2 separate regions of the Homo sapiens genome follow, and region 1 is linked to region 2. The links come from fine-mapping of genetic effects on gene expression. Tissue or cell type: whole blood. Region 2 holds a variant in brackets; the other region holds the start of a gene. All regions are shown on one strand. Distances are from middle to middle.

Region 1 (2,823 bases), 67 kb before region 2:
GTGTCAACCCCAACGCAACGCATCCGGTTAAACGTATAGCGCAACTGCGAACACGCTCGCGTGGATTAGAAGCGAAAGAAGAGAAATGCCCGAGGCAGAAACCCGCTCTGAGTCCCGGCTCCATCTAGACCCGGGCTGCCCCGAGACTACCGCGCGGCCCCTCTCGGGAACCCCGGCCGCCCGGCTCGCTCCGGGCGCAGGAAAAGCCCCTGAGAAGCGCGGGGCCCCCAGGACACCCCAGGAGAGGACGCTCCGGGCAGATGCGGGGGCACTGGGAGCGGGGGCGCCGCGGCTGCGGGAACTGAGGCTCCTCTGGGGAGGCTTCCCCGGCGCGGGGGGATGGGGTGGGCACTGCGCTCCAAGGGGCGGGGGAGGGGGAGAGGGCGGAGGCTGGGGGAGGAGAAGGAAGGGGGGGAGGAGGAGGGGAAGGGAGGAGGAGGAGGAAGGGGAGGAGGAGGAGGAAGGGGAGGAGGAGGAGGAAGGGGAGGAGGAAGAGGAGCGGAGGAGGGGAGCGAACAGGACGAGGAACGGGGCGGAGGGGGCTGGGAGGACGGAGGGGGCTGCGCCGCGCTCGGGGAGCGGAGGGGGACCGAGGGGTCCTGAGCGGGGGAAAGGTGAGCGGAGGAGGGGCCGCGAACCAGGGGGAAGCGGGAGGCCGGCGGAGCATGAGAGGGGGCGGCGGGAGGCGAGCGGGGGGAGCCCCGGAGGCTCCAACAACTTCCCAGTCCTGCGGGGATTCCGAGTTCCGAACAAAGGCGGCTACGAAGGCCGCGCGCACAGCGCTCTGTTCCGCCCCTCGGCGTCTCCCGCAGGGCGAACAAAGGCCCAGCGGGTCCCCGCGCCCAGGTCCCCCCACGTCCCCCTTCGGAGGTTCCCTTCTGCGTCCCAAGTCCCCAGGCCCCCCGCGCGCCCGATGCCCCCTCCACCCTCCGCGCCCCCCACCTCCGATCACCCCTGCGCTCCCGGATCTCCACGAAGCCCCGGACCCCGCGCCCCCGGCGTCCCCCGCGGCACTCACAGGATGGAGGTCTGCGGCGCCACGGCGGGCACGGCCTCCAGCAGCAGATGCATGCAGCGCACGGTGGTGCGGAAGCACAGGCAGCGGCTCGGACACCCTGCGCCCGGCTTCTGGGCCACCACGGCCAGCGTCCCCCAGGCGCAGAACAGCACGAGCGCCAACAGGCAGCGGCGCCCGGGGCCCCTGGAGCGCTTGGCCATGGCCGACGGCGCGGACGGACGCTCGGACGCACGGAGCCACCACGGCCGGCTCCCGACTGCGCCCGCCCGGCCGCGGCCCACGTCCCAGCTGTGCGCGGGGGGCGGGGGGCGCCAGCTGTGCACATGCGCGAGGCTCCTCCCGGCCCCTCTGAATCCCCGAGGGCGGGGCGGGGCGAGAACCCGGGGCCCCAGCGTCCGGCCTGAGCGCCCTCATCCCGGTGGGGCGGCCCGCATGGCCAAGGCGAGCGCTCGGGGGCGCGGAGGAGAGCATTGGCACCCCTGATTCTGCGCTCGAGACTCGGGGCTCGGGACCCTGGGGCCTACGCGAAGCTTCTCCACTTCTCTTACCCGTGGTTTCTGCCTGCGCTCACTACGGGTTTTTTAGTTGGCGCCTTAATGTTTGTAACACTTTTAGAGCGCTTGCTCTGATCCGGGCACGATTCCAGGCGCGCAGGCGCGCTCCTCTCTTTCTCCTTCTCCCTACCCGCAACCACGTAGGAAATTATTTAACGTTCCAAAAAAGCCCCTCATTCCTTTTGAGGAAACTGAGGCCCAAGCCCCAAAGCGCACAGCAAGGGAGTCTGCGGGAAGATTAGACCCAGGCGGTCCGGCTCCCCGGGGCCTGTCAGCCACCTGCTCTCTGCCGGCCGCCTGGCTCAGCACAGTTGGGAAAATGAAAGGTCCTGTGTGGAGTCCTTGGCGCGGCGCAATGCAGCCCCCGGGATTCTCGCGGCCTTCAGTGCGTGCCCTCCTGGGACAGACCTAGGAGGAGACCCAGGGAACCCCCCCCCCCCACGTCGGGTGTGTCTAGAGACAGCAGAAGACTTTGGAAAGGAGGGAAGACACTGCGTGAGATACGCACAAAGGTGGCGTTCTCACATAGTTCATACATTCTCTCCAATCATCTCACAAGGACCCAGTCTGAATTTCACAGACAAGGAAGGTGAGGCCAAGTTGCTGAACCCAGGCCACAGGGTGACGGTGCCAGATTCAGAGGCACAGCATGGGCGTGTTCCCGTCGCAAACCCCAAGTCTCAGCTGTGTCCCCGTGCTGGTGTTCTAGCCTGAGCTGCGTTTGAAAGCAGCCTGGAATGGGATTGGTGGGTAATAGGCTAGTTTCCTGTTGCTATGTTAAAACACAAAAGCAACTACCACGAGACATAGCCCGGAGGTCACAGGTGCATTGCTGACCACAGGGCACCATCTAAGGACTGGACCCCCGAGGCTGCTGGCAGGGGGTTCCAGTTCCTTGCCGTGTGGGTCTCCATGGCCTGCACACTGGACATGGCCTGATGCCTCCCAGAGCAGGTATTAGAAGAAAGAGGAAGAGAATGAGAGTACAACACAGAAGCCAGGGTAAAACCTAACCCAGCCTTGGAACTGGCCCCGCATCACACCTGCGGGGTGCATCCTCAGAGGTCGGTGGCTCCCGCTGACATTCCAGATGCCATCTTTCCTGCAGGATTTTATCCACCCTCTACAGCGGATGCAGCTCACACTCCGGATTCCATTTCTCCTGCAGGATCCTATTCACACACTCCGGTGGGCCCAGCTCACACTGCAGACAACATCTCTCCTGCAGGATACTATCCACACACAGAAGTG
Region 2 (2,903 bases):
TTTTTTTTTTGAGAGGGTCTTGCTCTGTCACCCAGGCTGGAGTGCAGTGGCCCGATGTCGGCTCACTGCAGCCTCTGCCTCCTGGGTTCCAGTGATTCTCCCGCCTCAGCCTCCCGATTACAGAATTATAGCCTCTGGGATTACAGGTGTGTGCCACCACACCTGGCTAATTTTTGTATTTTTAGTAGAGACAGGGTTTCACCATATTGGCCAGGCTGGTCTTCAACTCCTGACCTCAGGTGATCTGCCCGCCTTGGCCTCCCAAAGTGCTAGGATTACAGGCATGAGCCACCGCACCCCGCCTATAATGTTTTATATATGTATATGACATATGTGTTTATTCTCTCTATACATAATATTGTATTTCACCTGTATATGAAGTGTTAGATGGACCGTGTCCGTAAGTGGTGTGATGATGTGTTAGTGATATATCTAGAAACACTCTTTACTAGTGCAGGCAGATTACATCATTATTAGAAATATCTCTAATATCTGCATTAATATAATTAAGCTTTCTAAATATTATTTTTGTAATACATTTTCTTTTAAAATTTAAGAAAACAGGAAAATTCATAGCAGAAGAACTTGATCGTAATACATTTTCAACTGGGGATATTAGTGGTTGTTTTTGGGGAAATCCTATCTTTGTATAAAAATATTTCCAGTATTCTTCATCCACACCACAGGTCTAAGTTGTTATTTTTTTGATGTGATGTTTGCATCTCATAATTATAATAGAATATTCATAAAATTCTAAATAATCATTGCTGTTGCCTGACTGTGTCCCCTGAAAACTCGTGCACTGAAATCCTGACCCCCACCGGGATGGTGTTAGGAGAAGGGGCGTATGGGAAGTGAGGAGGCCTCGTGATGGGATCCGTGCCCTTATAACAGGGACCCAGACAGCTCCTTAACCCCTTCTCCCATGTGAGGACAGAGTGAGAAGGCGTCGTCCACCAACCAGAGAGCAGCAGTTGCCAGATGCCGAATCTGCTGGTGCCTCGGTCTCGGACTTCCAGTCTCCAGAACTTGGAGGAATAAATTTCTGGTTTCTATGCTGCCCAAGGTATGGTATTTGTTTTTGCAGCCCTGGAACGTCTAAGACAATCACCAGTATTTGTTGCTCATACCACAACTCTGTGGCTGTGAACTGCTGTGTTTGCTGATGATGTTCCTAGGTTCAGTGGGAGAAGGAGCAGCGGGGACTTTAACCCCAGCGTCATCAGCTCCAGCATCATCAGCTCTGGCGTCATCAGCTCTGGCGTCATCAGCTCCAGCATCATCAGCTCCCGCGTCCTATCCCATCCCAGGGCAAGCCGCACGGGAAGCCCCAGGAGCAGAGAGGCCTCTGGGAACTGGGTGGCCTGACAGGGTGGGCACGGTGGGCGCCCTGGCTTCTCCTGCTTGCCCTGACTGCATCCCCAGGAATCCGGACAGTCCCTGAGGGGGTCCTGGCT[C/T]GTGGTTCCCTTTGCTGTTTTTTTGTTCATTTATTTGTTACTAGACATTGGCACTGCTGCTTCTGATGGATCCTCTCACCCTGCCTGCTGCTGTTTACACCGGAAATCCCTGTGCTACTCAAGCTGTCTTTAGTGTGGGGCGTGAACGAACCCCTCGCGTTCCGGAGGGAACAGGCTCCTCTTCAGTCCTCCCTGATGGGGCCTGGGCAACAACCTGGCAGTCGTCCCCACTCCGGGGCACCCTCCTGGGTCTTCTCCTGCCTCCCCATCAGATCCCAGCAGGACGCCCTGCAAATCCGGCTGGGGTGGGGGCTGACACTTCTGCTTCCCTAGCTTATCCGTAAATCTGCTTCTGAAGGCGAGCTGGATATTTTCATTTGTAAAATAAGAAGTTCTCAAAAGATCTGTTAAGGCTCTCCTAAAATAGGATGCTTGGATGTTAACGCCACTTTTCCCCTTCCTGCCACTGGACACACTGTGGCTGTCACACACATCTTCCTGCAGGTGTGTCTGCGCTTTGGCCCCCGCATCCAGGTAGACTCTGCAGTCAGGTGACTACATCTGGCAAGTCCTTTGTGAGACCAGGAGGCCCACTGGACCTCACACCGCACCCCCTGATGCTCTAACGCACATAAGACGTGGAACTGGCTAGGAAAGACTTAGGCAGTCCTGTTTGCTCACTTATGAAATGAGAATAAAATATTGAATTGACTGTGTTTGTGAAGTTTAATGAAAAGAATGTGTATTCTTGAGGGCAAGGATTAAAATGCACTTTTTTGTTCACTGCTCTGTATCCCCATGATGGGAGAGTGCTGGAGATGGAATAGGTGCCCAGTGACGACTTCTGAAAGCATAAAATGTCTGAATGCACTTTGTGATGGCTCAGTGAGTGGAGGCCCAGGGTGAGTGTGAGTGCACCCAGGCTCTGGAAGGTGCAGACTGAGCCCTCAAAGAGGCCTGCGGCAGGATTTTGCAGGACTTCCAAGTTAAGAGAAGACTCTTAGCCGGGCGCGGTGGTTCATGCCTGTAATCCTAGCACTTTGTGAGGCCGAGGCGGACAGATCATGAGGTCAGGAGTTCCAGACCAGCCTGGCCAACATGGTGAAACCCTGTCTCTACTAAAAATACAAAAATTAGCTGGGCGTGGTGGCAGGTGCCTATAATCCCAGCTACTTGGGAGGCTGAGGCAGGAGAATCTCTTGAACCCGGGAGGCAGAGGTTGCAGTGAGCCGAGATCGCACTGCTGCACTCCAGCCTGGGTGACAGAGCAGGACTCCGTCTCAAAAAAAAAAAAAAAAAAAAAGACTCTTGAATGCAGCTGCCGCCCTGGGTTAAGATGAGAGGAGGGCTGGGGTGAGGGCCTCCTGCAGAGGTCCTAAGACTGTGACTGTAGGACAAGGGTGACGCCTGGTCGGTCCACGGTGCGTGTGGCCCAGCCCGGCTCAG

The links. PIP is the estimated chance that this variant, and not a neighbour inherited with it, causes the effect.
Region 1: it holds the start of PXDN, and the variant in region 2 is fine-mapped to the expression of PXDN in whole blood (TOPMed, PIP above 0.99).

Annotation. Positions count from the first base shown.
Region 1 is chr2:1,743,238-1,746,060 of GRCh38, forward strand. PXDN (peroxidasin) reads right to left here and starts at 1,278. Exons shown (of 23, transcript NM_012293.3): 1 at 1,019-1,278. The coding sequence starts at 1,218.
Region 2 is chr2:1,810,137-1,813,039 of GRCh38, forward strand. All of the region lies in intron 21 of MYT1L (myelin transcription factor 1 like), which reads right to left. Among named protein-coding and RNA genes, the nearest start is that of PXDN, 67 kb to the left of the region's middle. The variant C/T (reference allele first, on the strand shown) is at 1,458.